Linked DNA regions of Homo sapiens: region 2 is linked to region 1. The links come from fine-mapping of genetic effects on gene expression. Tissue or cell type: lung. Region 1 holds a variant in brackets; the other region holds the start of a gene. All regions are shown on one strand. Distances are between the middles of the regions.

Region 1 (9,025 bases):
TACTCACAATTTCCAGACACGAAAGGCTGTGTAACAGTGGACTTTATACCCTGAGAGTGAAAGTAAAATGTTCACTCTGAGGGCTGGAGCTGGAATCTTTCCTTCATCTATCTCTGTTAGGTGGTGAAAAGCAAGCCAATTTTGGTTGTGCTTATTGACATTGTATCATCTTATGTCATTTCTCAAGTGAAAGTTCTGCATTTTTGTATGAGTAAGAGGTCCCTCGATGGAGCTTTGCCAACTGTTTCTCTCAAGATGTTCTGCAGAGCATCAGATATTGACCTAAAATACAATAAATGGGCATCTCTCTCTGTTAACAGGACCATTGCCAACTATTTGGTGTGGAGAATGGTTTATTCCAGAATTCCAAACCTTAGCAGGCGCTTTCAGTATAGATGGCTGGAATTCTCAAGGGTAAGTTTAAGAAGATTGCAGTGTTACATCGCTGGATAACTTTACATGCTGGAATAGTCCATATATTAACTGATCCAGTAAAAATCATCTTTAGGGATTAGACAGGGGGAGTTTGTAGCCCAAGCTCTATTGTTTTTGTGTGTGTGTGTGTGCCTTATTTATTTTTATTTAGGTATAAATTACATATGGTAAGGTACACTCAAGTTTTACTTTGATGGGTTATATAAAGATATTTAGAGAAATACTTGAGGCCACACATTGTTTTCAAACTTCCCCGTCTTATTAGTGTATTCCCATTTTCCCCCAGAGTTTTTAACTGGGTCACTGTAATTATAGTTTTAACATTTCTTTGTGATATATTTGTAACTATCTTTTATTCTCAGTATTCTGAATATTTAAAATGTGCATGATAGAGATATTGGATGGTAGAACTTCATTTTCAATTTGGAAATGGAATTTTGTCTTAAACTTTGCCTATACCTTCCATCTTTGAATCTATCCTCTGCTAGGTCCAAGAGGCTCCAATTTAGTTTTCTTGCTCAACTGTCTGAGATGGTTTTCCTCCACCTGCTCACCTGGCTCTTTATTTATTTATTTTTATTAGAGATGGGGTCTTGCCATGTTGCCCAGGCTTGTCTTGAACTCCAGAGCTCAAGTGATCCTCTCACCTCAGCTTCCCAAAGTGCTGGGATTAAAGGCACGAGCCACTGTGCCGGGCCTCACCTGGCTCTTTAACCTTTGCTTCTCTCCCACCCTTGCTCGTCTCCCAGTTTGTACCCATGTTACTCTCACCTTTGTTTTTGAGGCTTATGTCTGACTAATTCTCCTACCACTAGAGGCCGTAAGGATTTTGTATCTTTGAAACAGTTTTTATTTTTCTATCAATTTAAAGTTAAGTGAATGGTGAATCTTATAAGCTATGATTTCATTCAAGAGGCATTTTAGTTATTAGAGGAACTAATAAGTATAGAAATTCTTAGTGGGCCATTACTCTGGAAGAGTAGTGCAATTATTTTGGATATGCTTTGACCCTATAAAGTCACTAGCATATAAAGTTACTTTAGGGCTGGGTGCAGTGGCTCACACCTGTAATCCCAGCACTTTGGGAGGCCAAGGCAGGCAAATTGAGGTCAGGAGTTTGAGACCAGCCTGGCCAACGTGGTGAAACCTCGTCTCTACAAAAAATACAAAAATTAGCCGGGCATGGTGTCACGCACCTGTGGTCCCAGCTACTCGGGGGGCTGAGGCAGGAGAATTGCTTGAATCCGGGAGGCGGAGGCTACAGTGAACTGAGATGATGGCACCAATGCACTCCAGCCTGGGCAACAGAGCAAGACTCCGTCTCAAAAAAAAGAAAAAAAGTCTTTTTTACAGAGAACAGCATAAAACAACTATATATATATTTAGGTCATATTGATGGGTTAAGATACAAAACAAGTAGGTTTTGTGTGTGTGTGTGTGTGTGTGTGTGTGTGTGTGTGTGTGTGTGTGTGTTTGTGTGTATTTTTAACTGCTACGAATCACATAAAAGATGATGCCCAGCTGCTTTCCACCCCTACTGTGAAGAGAATGAGAGAGGTGTAAGAAGCACTGTGTGAACATTTAAGGTTAGGTATGAGGGGATGTTTCTTGAGCACGAAGTGCTAAATATAATATTGAATTGCCGAAGAAGGTTGTAGGATCTCTTTCTCTAGAGGTTTTAAAAATAGATTCATCGCTTACCTCTGAGAGAGGTTACCAGAAATCAGAGGAAGAATAGATGAAATTAAGCCTTAATCCCATTCCTCAAAACAACCTGGGTCTAACATTGTGCAAAGGACACTTCTGACCACCATTCTCAGGGCCTCCCTTCCTCCCTGCCTGCACCCCCAGCTTCCAAGGGCAACTTACACTATATTTATTTCTCTGCTTTTATTCCCAAGAGTAAACCTCTGACCCAGGTCCTGCTTGGGAAACTTCTTACTTGTTTGTAAATGTTTTCTTGCAATGGTATAATTGGGACAGATGGGCAAAGCATTTACATCTGTATTTTGCTTGTTTATCAGTGTGTTTTTTGCTGTGACACAATGTAAATATGCTCCCTGTGTTGTTCATGGTGGGCCATGTTCTTCTGGTCTGCCTTGTTGAGTGTGCTACTCGGAGCAAGGAAACCCTCACTGGGCAGGAACTTTGATCACCCACTGATTCTAGACCTTCTTAGTGGAACTTTAGTTCTCAGGAGATATTAAATATTATCTAGACACTTGGATAGCATCCTCTCATGTCCCTGCTGACTGCAGAAAAGTGATACCATTGTCCAGATTCTTTGTTTAATGGGGAAAATTGGGAAGAAAGGATACATATATTATTTTAACTGTTAAATCACTTTCTTTTCTTCTTCTTCTTTTTTTTTTTTTTTTTTTTTTTCCAGACAGAGTCTCACTCTATTGCCCAGGCTGGAGTGCAGTGGCCCAATCTCAGCTCACTGCAACCACCGCTTCCTGGGTTCACACAATTCTCCCACCTCAGCCTCCCAAGTAGCTGGGATTACAGGCATGCACCACCGTGCCCGGCTAATTTTTGTGTTTTTAGTAAGCACGGGGTTTCACCATGTTGGCCAGGCTGGTCTCGAGCTCCTGACCTCAGGTGATCTGCTCACCTGGGCTTCTTAAAGTGCTGGGATTACAGATGTGAGCCACTTTGACCGGCCTAAAACATTTTCATTTAGTTTGAAATATAATGGGGACAAGCAGAATTTTTTTCTTCAACTATTTTACCTTTGCCTCTACTATCTGATGCATATATATGGGTTAGGGTGTGCAGTGTTTTGTAGACTGTTTTCTTCAGGTTGTTTGAATTGTTTTCAGCCATGGGTTTTATCCAAATGAAGTTTAATCTGGATCAATTATCTCCCACAGGTAATCCAGGGGACCACAACTTTGCTGCCTCAATGGGACAAATGTGTAAACTTTATTGAAAGTGCCCTCCCTTATGTTGTTGGAAAGATGTTTGTAGATGTGTACTTCCAGGAAGATAAGAAGGAAATGGTAAGTGGTACTCCCCAGCTAGCAAAAAATAATGGCAATTTAGCCAGATCTGACAAGGGTATATTCAACAGGCTAATGTCAGCCTTCCAGGTGGTAGTGGCCTGTGGGTATTGTCTTCAGATTCTTTCAACTTCTAAGTGAAATAGGAAGAAAGGTCATCAAACGAGAGTGAGGATGAGTTAGCAGGTATTGAAGGTTAGAGGAGAGAGAAGGTGTGTAGTTTTCCAGGGGAGTGGGAGAGTGAATAAACTGAGGGAATGTAGTATAGCTGCTTGA[G/A]GGCAGGCATGTCCAGATGTAGGTGAGGTTTGAGGTATTGAATTTAAAGAGGGACTCATCACTGTGGCAACGTGTTCTTCTCCATCTGTTTCAACTGCATTGGAGAAAAGGGTGTATTTTTTTTTCTTTCAGCTTTATTGAGATGCATTTGACTAATAACAATTGTATATATTCGAAGTATACGGCCGGGCGCAGTGGCTCACACCTGTAATCCTAGTACTTTGAGAGGCTAAGCCGGGCAGATCACTTGAGGTCAGGAGTTTGAGGCCAGCCTGGCCAACATGGTAAAACCCCATCTCTACTAAAAAAAATACAAAATTTATCTGGGCGTGGTGGCAGGCACCTGTAATCCCAGCTATTTGGGAGGCTGAGGCAGGAGAATTGCTTGAACCCCGGAGGCGGAGGTTGCAGTGAGCCGAGATCGCGCCACTGCCCTTCAGCCAAGGCGACAGAGCGAGACTCTGTCTCAAAACAAACACAAAGTATACAAGATGATGATTTGACATACATTGTGAAATGGTTGCCACAATCAAATGAACACATCTGTTGTCACACTTATTTACCATTGTGTGTGTGGTGGTGGGGGATGAGGACACTTAAGATTTACTGTCTTAGCAAATTCAAGTATACAATACATTATTAGTAACTATAGTCACCATGCCATATTTTAGATCCCCATAACTTATTCATCTTAGAACTAGAAGTTTGTACCCTTTGATCAATATCTCCCCATTTCCCTGCCCCCAGCCCCTGGCAACTACTGTTCTACTCTCTGCTTCTATATTTTAACTTTTATAAAGATTCTACATATAAGTGAGATCATATAATATTTGTCTTTCTGTGCCTGGCTTATTTCACTTAGCATAATGTCCTCTGGCTTTATCTATGCTGTTGCAAAAGGCAGGATTTTCTTCATTTCTTCATTTTTATGGCCAAATATTCCATTGTGTGGTACACACATGCACACATCGCAGTTTCCTTATGTATTTATCCATTGAAGGGTATTTAGGTTTATTCCATATCTTGGCTATTATGAATAATGCTGCAATGAACATGAAGGTGCAGATCTTTCTTCCATATACTGATTTTACTTACTTTGGATATATACCCAGTAGTGGGATGGCTGGATTGAATGGTAGTCCTATTTTTATTTTTTTGAAGATTTTCCATGCTATTTTCCATAATGGCTGTACCAGTTTACATTCTTACCAACAGTATATGAGCGTTTCCTTTTTTTCCAGGAATATTTTGCCAACACTTACCTCTTAAATTTTTGATCATAGCCATCCTAACAGGTAGTGAAGTGCTATTTCATTATGGTTTGATTTGCATTTCCCTGATGATTAGTGATGAAAACCTTTTCATAAACCTCCTGTTTATGTGTCGTCTTTGGAAAAATGTCTATTCAGATCTTTTGCCTATTTTTTAATCAGATTATTCGTTTTTTCACTATTGAGAGGGTGTATTTTGAATTAGAAACATGGATTTGGCCAAGTTTTTTGTCTGCATTTTATTTTTGATGAATTATATTTTACAAATGTCATGAAGTAAAAGATCCAGGCATGATTAATAATAATCCGTGTAGTCAATAAGATACAAATATATGAGCAGCTTGGATGCAGGTGGTCAATAAACACTGAATTAAAGGGCAAAGACATTGTAATGTCATGATTGTTCAAATGATTGGTATCACGTAGTGATACATAATAATACCAAATGGTTGGTATTATGTATCAGTACATAGTCATTATTGATACATAATACATGATTATGTATTATGCACTGAAGTTTGCTTTGCAATACCATATCTAAGTACATTTGTGGCAGGCCAGGTCTCACTAACACAGGCCTCCATCACAACTGTCCCAGCACGTACTGAGTAGCTAGGTTAAACATTAAAAGCTGATTGAACCACTGCCCATATACAAAGCCTGGAATGTAACAAAGAGCCCACCAAGAGTTTTGCCTAGGCTTTTCCTGGATCTTGAAGCATGACAAGATAATGAATGAATTCTTAACAGGACCCTTTTAGGATTAAACAAGTTTTATTGGGGGTCTGAAGAAACTCCACAGGCCTCCACAAACAAGTTTACTGGGGTCTAAAGGAACTCCCCAAACCTTTATGATTTAGCAGGAGACAAGATAAGGGTAATTACCTCAGTACCTAGACCCATTTAGATTAAGTAAACTTACTGAGGCTCCAGAAGAAGGTCTTCAAGACTCACACCTAGTTATAGATTAAAAGAAGTTAATCATTTATGTCTTTCGACGATTGCACACTTTCACGTAGACATATAGCTTAGAAGGTATATGAGCTCTAGAAAACTTTGTAACTTTGAGTTGGTCTGGTGATAATTTCCAGGCTTTCTCCCTGTAACCAGTGGCAGAAAATAAAACTCTGTTCTTCCCCAGTTCATTTGCATCTCGTTATTGGGCCGTGAGAAATAGCAGCCTGACCCTCAGTTTGGTCTGGGAACAAATTGACCTATGTTAACTTGTTTTTACTGTCTAACTATGAGACTTTATGTTTGAACCTGAAAGTTCCCTTGCAAATAATTCCACTGAGGAATTAATGGCTTATTTCAAAATACTCAGTATTCTCATTGCGTGTTTTCTTTTGCTCTTTGGTCAGAGTAAATAGATTGAGATCTTATCAGATAATCACAGTAGTAATATTATAATCTCTGGGAAGGCTATAAAAACAATTAAAGGATAATGAAAGATTTAAAAAAATTATAGCAGGTTTTTTGGCAGTAGAAGAATTTTAACTAATATGAAAAGTATGTGGATTAAACTTGTTTTTCTCAGTTTTGGTGTGAAAGTCCCTTTTCCTTGTGTCAGGGTATGACATTCTAAAATAAAGTTAATTTTGGCATCTTCCCCCTTATTTTGATGTACGTGGGGGTAGTTTGGTAGTTAGGCAGATACTCATCTCTTTAACGTAAAATTGTTTGCCTCCCTTGTGCTGAAGCTGTTTGCCTCAGGGAATACTTAGGTTGGAAACTTATAAGAGAAATATCTGGCCTTTTATAGCCTTTTTTTTTACAGGGCTCCCATCCAAGAACCACCTGGAACCACTGATTTACTTGAAAAACATTCAGTATTATTAGCTACAGTCTAAAGAAAAAGAAAAACAGAAAGATCCCCAAAGGGGCAAATTCCAGAGACCCTAACTCAGATGGAAGGCTGCCATTGTTTATTTACCAAAAAAGTTTGTTAAGCAAATGAATACAGTCAGAAGCTTAAACTTCAGGTATGTCTCAAATTTACATGTGTACATAAATCACGTGAGCATCTGCTTGTTAAAAATGCAGATTCTCATTGCATTTTAACAAGGTTTTTTTTTTTTAAGTTGTGTTTGGGGTAGGACCCAAGAATTTGCCTAACAAGGTTCCAGGTGCGACTGCTGCTGCTGGTCGTGGACCACACTTTGCGCAGCAAGGTCTTCTCATGATTCATTTGTTTGTAAACAGCACCAAAAAAAAAAAAAAAAAAAAAAAAAAGCCTCGGTGACTCACAAGAGCAGGCCAGGCCAGTTGACATGAATAGCAGTACTTTATTTACCAAAACCGGTTACATTAGTGCAAGTAACTGCTTTAATTTTCAGATCATTGAAAATTTCTGTGATTCAGATTGGTTTAAATGGACTGTGAAAAACCCTGCGTTAGGACCTCCAGGCTTTATCTTTTGAAAACTGATACCTAGGTTTTACTAAGAGACTCCCGCCCCACTTCTCCTCCGTGTCTGTTTTGAGAACCTCTTGATGACAGAGTTGGCCCAACTGCCTGTGGTTGGTACCCTCTCTTCTAAAGAGTGAGTGGGAGAGAGCAGTTCACATTGAGGTTTCCTACCTATCAGTGTTCTCCTCCTTTTCACTGGGGAAAACACATAATTCTATATTACTGTTTCACTAAGACTTCCTACATCCAACTGTGCATTTGGACACACCGATACACCAACGTTCTCATACTCATTCACACACACAACCATGGGAATTTAGCAAATTGAATTAGAAATGAGAAGAATAGCATGTAGAAAAGGAGAGTCCTTCAACAGAAAGCCACCAAAAGAGGTCATATAGTACAATCCCTTGCCTCCCAGTTAGCAGGACAGAGCCTTAACTCGTGAGATTGGCTGCAAGTGTTGCTTTGTCTTTGCAGTCCAAAGTAGCACTACCCAATTGAACTGGAATATGAGCCACATATTTTTTTTGAGACAGGGTCTCACTCTGTTGCCCAGGCTGGAGTGCAGTGGCGTGATCTCGGCTCACTGCCACCTCCGCCTCCCTGTGTTGGGATTACAGGCATGAGCCACTACCCCTGGCCTCCATTGACTTTTATATTAACATTTTCTCCCTCCTTACCTCCCTTTCTTCCCCCATTCCCCAGAACTAAAAATCATAACTTTGTCTATCAGAGGACTTCTTTAATTTTTTATCTTATTTAGATGAAGATTATTTATAATTTTAAAACATTCCATTAGCTAAGCATTTAATATTACTTTTGTGGAAAGTTACATGAAAGTGGGACTCCCCTAGAGAATTGATGATATATCATCACTGTAAATAGAGATGATGCTCTCGTTCCACTGTGCCAAGCCCTGATCCATATGCTCATGACCTAAATGGCAGGAGAGAGGATTAGTTGTGTTCAGGAAGGATGTCTAGAGTTATCACTTGCTAATTTTCCCCTTTATTTATTTTTATTTTTTAATACTCTTGTCTTTTTCTTTTTCTTTTTTTTTTTTTTGAGACAGAGTCTTGCTCCATCACCCAGGCTGAAGTGCACTGGCATGATCTTGGCTCATTGCAACCTCTGCCTCCTGGGTTCAAGCCATTCTTGTGCCTCAGCCTCATGAGTAGCTGGGATTACAGGTGTGCACCACCAGGCCCAGCTAATTTTTGTATTTTTTTTGGGTAGAGATGTGGTTTCCTCATGTTGGCCAAGCTGGTCTTGAACTCCTGACTTTAAGTGATCTCCCTGCCTCAGCCTCCCAAGGTGCTGGGATTATAGACGTGAGCCACCACGCCTGGCCTTGTTTGATTATTATTATTATTGCTTATATCTGTAATGTATAAGTAAGTGCCCCAGGTAGATACTCATGTCCATGGAGGGCAGGTGAAGGTTCCAACGAAGGCCAGGGAATGAAGGGATTGTCACCATGGGCCTAGTTGTGACTGTGATGGTCAGGACATATTGGTTTTAAAATGTGGTGATGATAATAACAGTAGCAGTTAGCTTTCACTGAGGTTTAACTAGCTGTCTGGTATTCTTTTAAGTGCTTTCAGTGTGTGAACTCACTTATCCTCA
Region 2 (8,000 bases), 83 kb before region 1:
GGTCGAGGCATGTGGATCGCTTGAGCCCAGGAGTTCGAGACCAGCTTGGGGAACATGGCAAAAATCCATCTTTACTAAAAATACAAGAATTAGCTGGGCGTGGTGGCGCACCACCTGTAGTCCCAGCTATTCGAGAGGATGAGGCAGGAGAATCGCTTGAACCTGGGAGGTGGAGGTTGCAGTGAGCCGAGATTGCGCCACTGCACTCCAGCCTGGGCAACAGAGCGAGACCCTGTCTCAAAACAAAACAAAAAGGTGAAAAACAAAAAAAGCTTTATTTACAAAAACAGGCAGTGGGCCAAATTTGGCCCATGTACTCTTGTGTACAGACCCCTGCTTTAGTCCTGTGAGCACCTATTATTTCCCTGTGCTTTGAACTTCTTTATTTTGCCCTAAAGGGTTTTTTTTCTTTTCTTTTTTTTTTCCGTGTTACTTTAAGTGTGGTTTATTTTGAGGGCAAGATAATCATCATCTCCTAAAAGGCTGAAAAATTAATGCAGAAAATGGCACAGAATGAACAATGTACCTTGTAATGAATGATTCTCCCACATCCTTTCCTCTGTCAGTCCCGCCACTCTCAAGTTTTCCTTTATTCCTCTGGTGAATAAAAGAAACCTTCATTACATTACATTACACAAATTATGCTTATTTTCAATATTTTGACAGTTCTATATTACTCTTACAGACTTGTTTTCATTGTTCAAGTAATACATTTTAAAATTACTTTTTTTAATTTTTAATTTTTGTGGGTACATATTAGGTGTATATATTTGTGGGTACATGAGTTGTTTCGATACAGGCATGCAATGTGAAATAATCACATCGTGGTGAATGTGGTATCCATCCCCTCAAGCATTTATCCTTAGTGTTACAAACAATCCAATGGCAGTCTTTCAGTTATTTTTAAATTTACAATTAAGTTAAATGAATACATTTTTCTATCTGTGTTTGCATATCTTAGTTTGGGATAGAATGCATCATAATTTTCCTATTACAATTAATGAAAGTATTTTTTTTGGTTTAATGGCTTTTCACTCAGCAGTTGACCGTTCAGGAATGAATTCCTGTCGGTAAGTGATGGGTAGGTATAACTTCAGGGAATCCCCAAATTGCCCTCACCTCTGGGGGAATTGCAAGTTCAAGGCAGGTGAAGGCTACTCCAGCTAGGAACTCACGGCCACTATTCAATGTCAGTGGGGACACTGAAAGTTGTGAGGAGATTGAGAGGAGGAAGGAAAGAGGAAAGAAGTGAGTCCTGGTGTCGTGCTTGGGTGACTGTCCTCTCGCTGTGCACAGGAAGCTTTGTCAAGCAGCAGACATGCCATGTATGGCAATGATCCCATCCCCCATCTATCCATTTGTGATTTTCCCATGCCACCTGAGGCCATTCCTTGGTCTCAGTGTCCTTATTTGTGAAACAGAGTTAAAATACCTTTGCTATCAAGTATGTAGATTTACCATGAGGTTAAAGCGAATGTGCTATGCCTATATGAAGTATCACTTTTAGTTGAGCATTGAGAAGGAATAATTAGGGCCTTGAAAGATGACACCCTTCCTCCCCCCGCAGACATTAGCATGTGAGGTTCCTGAAGCTGAAGCTGGTTGTTTGTTGTTTGTTGTTGTTGTTGTCGTTGTTGTTGTTTTGAGATGGGGTCTCGCTCTGTTGCCCAGGCTGGAGTGCAGTACTGCGATCTCAGCTCACTGCAACCTCCGCCTCCCGGGTTCCAGTGATTCTCCGATTCTCCTGCCTCAGCCTCCCGAGTAGCTGGCATTACAGGCATCCACCACCACCTCCGGCTAATTTTTGTACTTTCAGTAGAGTCGGGGTTTCGCCATGTTGGCCAGGCTGATCTCGAACTCCTGACCTCAGGTGATCCACCCACCTTGGCCTTTTGGTTTTTTTGAGACACAGTTTCATTCTGTCACCCAGGCTGGAGTGCAGTGGCTCAATCTCAGCTCACTGCAGCCTCCACTTCCCAGGTCCAAGCGATTTTTGTGCCTCAGCTTCCCCGAGTAGCTGGGATTACAGTCACGTGCCACCACACCTGGCTAATTTTTGTATTTTTAGTAGAGACAGGGTTTCGCCACATTGGCCAGGCAGATCTCGAACTCCTGACTTAGAGTGATCTGCCCACCTCAGCCTCCCAAAGTGTTGGGATTACAGGTGTGAGCCACCACTTCTGGCCCCGAAGTTGGTTTTTTGTTTTGTTTTGTTTTGTATTTGTTTTTTTCCAGACAGTCTTGCTCTGCCGCCCAGACTAGAGTTCAGTGGCATGATCTCAGCTCGCTGCAACCCGCCTCCTGAGTTCAAGCAACTCTCCTGCCTCAGTCTCCTGAGTAGCTGGGATTACAGGCGCCTGCTACCACGCCCGGCTATTTTTTGTATTTTTAGTAGAGACAGGGTTTCACCATGTTGGCCAGGCTGGTCTCGAACTCCTGACCTCGTGATCCACCCGCCTTGGCCTCCCAAAGTACTGGGATTACAGGCGTGAGCCACTGCGCCCAGCTGAAGCTGGTTGTTAAGAGTAAGTGGCTAGGGCTAACTTGTATGATTTTTATTGCTCTCCTTTTCACTGTGAAGGGCCAGGAAATGTCGATGTTGGAGCTGCAACATTGAACATGGTTCCTGACTTTGTGGAACTCATGGTCTAAGATGTGTTCTAGAGTGAGGTCCAAAAACTCTTGGGAGAATCCCATACTAGGGGCCAAAGTCCTGCTAGGGTGTGTTATGGAATAACAGCAACAAAATAATGTCAACAGCCAATGAGCACAGGATAACTACAACACACCATGATGTCATAACTTGGACAAAGGCTTGTGACCCCCTGACTTTGGCGCAACATGAAATGAGCAGAAAGTAAGGTATATTATGGAATAAGCCCCAAAACTTGAGAGAATCCCATGCTAAGGGCTTAAGCCCTGACCAAGACAAGCCAGACAGGACCATGAATGTGTGGCCATGTTATACTGAGCTCATCAGCACCTGCTGAGCTCCTGTGTCACCTCTAAAGCCATGCGCACAAGTTTTGCATTGAGATAATTGCTCTACTGGTTTCTAGATATAGTTGAATTCTCCACCCCCACTCCCACTGCCCTATGACCTCCAGCAAAACAAAAGCAGGTAGGTAGTAATTGTGTTGTGAGTTAACGATATCTATATCTTTGGATAATAAAATCTATATCATTTCAGTGGTAGCATTGGAATATCAGTTGCCCTTCCCCATGAAGAAAGCACATTGTTATCGTTTAAATCATTATCATAATCAAAAATATCAAAGACCCAGTCATTCATCAGTCTTTCCAGTGAAGTCAACTGCCTTTGTTTTTTGTTTGTTTATTTTTGAGACAGGGTCTCTCTCTCTGTCACCCAGGTTAGAGTGCAGTGGCGCGATCTGGCTCACTGCAACCTCCACCTCCCAGGCTCAAGCGATTCTCCCACCTCTGCCTCCTGAGTAGCTGGGAATACAGGTGCTCACCAACATGCCCGGCTAATTTTTGTGTTTTTAGTACAAACAAGGTTTCGCCTTGTTGGCCAGGCTGGTCTCGAACTCCTGGCCTCAAGCGAGCCCCCTGCCTCAGCCTCCCAAAGTGCTGGGATTACAGGCGTGGGCCACTACGCCCGGCCTGAAACCAATTGCCTTTGAATTCATCCTGGGGAATCTGCTGAAGTGGACAGTTTATGTAAACACAAAAACATCCTAATGAATGGCTGCCTCAGTAGGAGTGGCAGACAAAACACATGGTGCACTTTTCATCAAAAACACACAAGGAAAAAATTTTTCATCATATCTTTTGTAGTTGCTAATAAACTTAATTCACGCACTTGTGTTTTTTTGTGGGTTTTTTTTTTTGTACACTTCTTAGTACCACAAAGAGGAAGTGCTTTTTCTCCTTCCTTTAAGAAAAAGTTCCAGTTCAAACCATCAGCCTCTGTAGGTTGTCTTAATTGCTACTTTGCACTGCACTGGACTATGACTGATTTTTGGCACATGCTATCATACACAAAGTTCCTGAAATAAAATGCTCCAGGATATCCTAGGAACTCTTAGAAGGCTTTAAAAAGGGACTCACACACTGAAAGAATATCTTTGATGAAGACAATTCAGGCAAGCAGAATGATTCTTGCAACAGAATTACATGATTAATTGAGATCTTGAAGTGGGTCCGGTGAATCCTGGCCACCTAACTTATCATGATTTGGGGGAGTTTCACGAGAATCCAGTTTTGATAAAACAATTGTTTTTTTCCTCCCCAAGTGACTATACATTTAAATAGCTAAAACATCTGTTCAGCAACATAGTAAAACATATATACTCGGAACGCTTGAGAGAAGAGCCTGCCAAACAGGGACTTTGCTGAGGGAGAGCACCAAGATAAAGCAACACTGTTTGTTTTGTCTAGTCAGGGGGAAAGCCAAGGCAACCAATATTTTGGTTTTTATAATTTTCATTTGTGAAGAATTATTTGAGAAAGGGTGGCGAGGGGAGATTTCCTGACGGCAGTTTCTTAAGCTGTCCATTAGTAGAAGAGCAAGAAAGCCTTGGATGTCAACGCCTCGCTCTTGAGACCAGCCACCAAACCACGAAAAGTGACTTTCTTCTCGTGTGCTCTCTACGGCCCTTCTGATGGAAGCAGAAACAGGGAGCAGCGTGGAGACTGGAAAGAAGGCCAACAGAGGCACTCGAATTGCCCTGGTCGTGTTTGTCGGTGGCACCCTAGTTCTGGGCACGATCCTCTTTCTAGGTAAGTGGAGTGCAGGAGGCCGGGGGAACTGGGTGTGTGTCGAGAAGTTTCCTTGTGCTTTATTGTAGCAAAACTTGTCATAACACAGGTATAGGGCTGTTTGCCTGCGTTCATAGGTGGTGTATCTTTAGTTTCTATCAAATATGCAAATGATAAAGAAGGCTTTTTTAAGGAGCCTAAATAAATAAATACACCCAAGTACCAAATGTATAGTCCAGAAGGCAAAGTGGGTGTAAGTGGCTTCGAGTGGCTGGCTGATTCTGTTGCATTGGGTGGAAAATTTTTTATGTGGTACATTTAGCAAAATGAGTGTTTGTGAATTCATAGTCACATAGTTTCATTTATATTTTGAGGAAAGACTTTACATTGTGATGAAAACCATGCTGGAGTGTCTTTCCATTTGACTTTTATTAATGTTTGCTTGAACGAATCATGAAATTTAATTCACAAAACACAAATCAGTCCTTTAAAGTGTGCTTTTAATGATATTCTTCAATTCCTTTCTTATCCAGTGACTCTGGTGAGATGCAATTTGATTTACAAATTAATATGAAGGAAAACAGAGGTTTTCCCCCAAGATTTGAAAGATATTGTGATTCAGTTATTTTAATGACTGTTGGTGAGAATGATGTACCCAGAGAGTATATAGGATGATAGAAGTGTATTCCCATGAAAAAGAATCAAATATCTTGGAAAGGAGTGAGGGATTTTCTAAAATTCTAGGCTTTCTGAACCCTTGACTATTACCGTTTTAATTTTTCTCATACAACCCATAATACTTCATTAACTTGAACGTTACATAGGAACGAGGAGATTCTAGGTGCAGTTTGAAATGTAGCAAACCTGCAGGAGGCCATGTTTATTTTGGCAGGGGTAAACCAGTAATTAAACTTTAAAAGAGTTAGGGTTGTGTGGTTGAAAACTGCTAAAATGAGCAAACCATCTTTCCACGCTTTCTGTGGCTGAAGATTTAGGAAATTAGATGGGTTTATTGCTTTCTGATAAAGCGAAATCTCCTACTCCTGCAACTGAATCTGTGGCTCTTGAAAACTCTTGTAAGATTTCTCAGCACTTAGGGTTTAAACAAGGGTCCTCTGCTGAAATTCCAAACAAGAGGAAAAATTCTATGGGCATGCCAAAAGACTACAGGCTACGTGCAACGTGACTGCAAGGTTAGGTTTTGCAAATGCTCCCAAACTTAAAAATCCCAATAATTATTGTTTATGTAAAAATATGTACTCTTTTTAACGATATTACCACTGCACGAAACTTTTACAAAACTCTACTTTTATGATTACCTCCTGAGGCCGTGGCATATCGGTTGAAAGATTCTCCGCGGCAGCAAATCTTTGTTCTTTCAGAGAAAATTATTCTCAGGAAATAGTGCCGATGTTTTTAGAGCAAAGTAAAATTCATCAAGCCAGACGCTACTATTATGGATAAGGAGGCCTGCATAAAATATGAAAGAGAACTTTCCAGCGTGCCCAATAACCTGGCTCTCACCTTGACTCTCTAAGAGGAGCTCAAATGATGTTAGAGAATAAGGGCAAACTGAGGCTGTGGCCTCTACAACTTTGCTTCTCAAAATGGGGTCTGTGGACCAGCAGCATTAGCATCACTGGGGAGCTTGAGCTCCACCCCAGACCCGCTGATTCACAATCTGCATTTTCACAAGACCCCCAGGGGACTGTTTGCAAATGCAGGTTTGAGAAGCATTGCTTCAGGTGACCATATCTATTTGGATGTATACATTCAGGGACACTTCTTTTTGTCAAATATTTCTGCACTATTTTAGAATCACCCCCTTACCCCCTCTCCCCGTCCCTCTCCTCAACTCTGCCACCCACCTCCACTCTGCACCCAGGCAAAGTGCTTGTCTGAAAAGCTCCAGGGACCTGCCTGGCAATGCTCTTCATGACAATATTCTAGTTAGGGTCGTCGTCTCTTCAAGGGGCTTCCTGCTTGACTTTGTGGTATATTTCTCTGCCTGTCCACATTCACTTACATGCCTGCAATTTCTAGCATCCCTTCGTACCTCATCTTTGTATCTGAGGCTCTGGGATAATCTCTCCTCGCAACCTTAGTGCTTCTACAGTAAGAGTGATTGCCAGTGGTCTTGCAGTGGCTTCTGAGAAGCTACAGAGCACCAGAATGGAAAACCTTTCTTCTTCTCCTTCCCCTCTCTTTCCTCCCCACAATCTGTTTCTCAGATGCACTGGCTGGCAAACTTTTTCTGCCAAGAGCCAGATAGATAGTGAATATATTTGGCTCTGTGGGCCATACGGCCTCTTGCAACTACTCAATTCTGCTGTTGTTGCACAAAAGCATCCATAGACAATATGTACACAAATGGGCATGGCTGTGTGCCAAGAAAATCTGATTTCTAGACACTGAAATTGGAATGTTATATACTTTTCATATGTCATGAAATATTATTTTCCTTTTTATTTTTCCTGACCATGAAAAAAATGTAAAAGCCATTCATAGCTCATGGGCTGTACAGAAACAGGCAATGGATTTGACCTACAGGCCATAGTTTGCTGACCCCTGCTTTCTGGCCATTCTTATGCTCTTGATCTGTGGATGACTCCACTGCATCCTAAGGGCATTTCCTCTGGTTATAGAGAAATCTACAATGAGAAACCAAACTGCTATTTACATGTATTTTTTAAAGCTCCTAACCATTCAAAAGTAACATCTTAATTTTTATATTAAAAATATTTTCTTTATTGTCTCTATTTCATTCACTTACACCTTCACATTATCTGGGCTTATTGATCCTCATTTATTTGGAGAATTTTAAAATAACCCCATCCATGGAGATAATGCTCTTCCTTGAGGGGTTGGGTCTGTCAGTGTCCCAATTAATTAATTATACACACACACACACACACACACACACACACACGTACATATATATATATATATATATTTTTTTTTTTTTTTTTTTTTTTGAGACGGAGTCTCACTCTGTCACCCAGGCTGGAGTGCAGTGGTGCGATCTTGGCTCGCTACAACCTCCGCCTCCTGGGTTCAAGCAATTATCCTGCCTCAGCCTCCTGAGTAGCTGGGATTACAGGCGTGCACCACCACGCCCAGCTAAGATTTGTATTTTTAGTAGAGATGGGGTTTCACCATGTTGGCCAGGCTGGTCTCGAACTCCTGACCTCAGGTGATCCGCCCACCTCGGCCACCCAAAGTGCTGGGATTGCAGGCCTGAGCCACCGTGCCTGGCCTAATTAGTTATATTTAAAACC

What was found. PIP is the estimated chance that this variant, and not a neighbour inherited with it, causes the effect.
Region 2: PHEX starts here. The variant in region 1 is fine-mapped to the expression of PHEX in lung (GTEx, PIP 0.93).

What each region holds. Positions count from the first base shown.
Region 1 is chrX:22,111,147-22,120,171 of GRCh38, forward strand. It overlaps PHEX (phosphate regulating endopeptidase X-linked), which reads left to right. Exons shown (of 22, transcript NM_000444.6): 10 at 321-414; 11 at 3,312-3,440. Among named protein-coding and RNA genes, the nearest start is that of PHEX-AS1, 57 kb to the right of the region's middle. The variant G/A (reference allele first, on the strand shown) is at 3,717.
Region 2 is chrX:22,028,381-22,036,380 of GRCh38, forward strand. It overlaps PHEX (phosphate regulating endopeptidase X-linked), which reads left to right and starts at 3,945. Exons shown (of 22, transcript NM_000444.6): 1 at 3,945-4,743. The coding sequence starts at 4,626.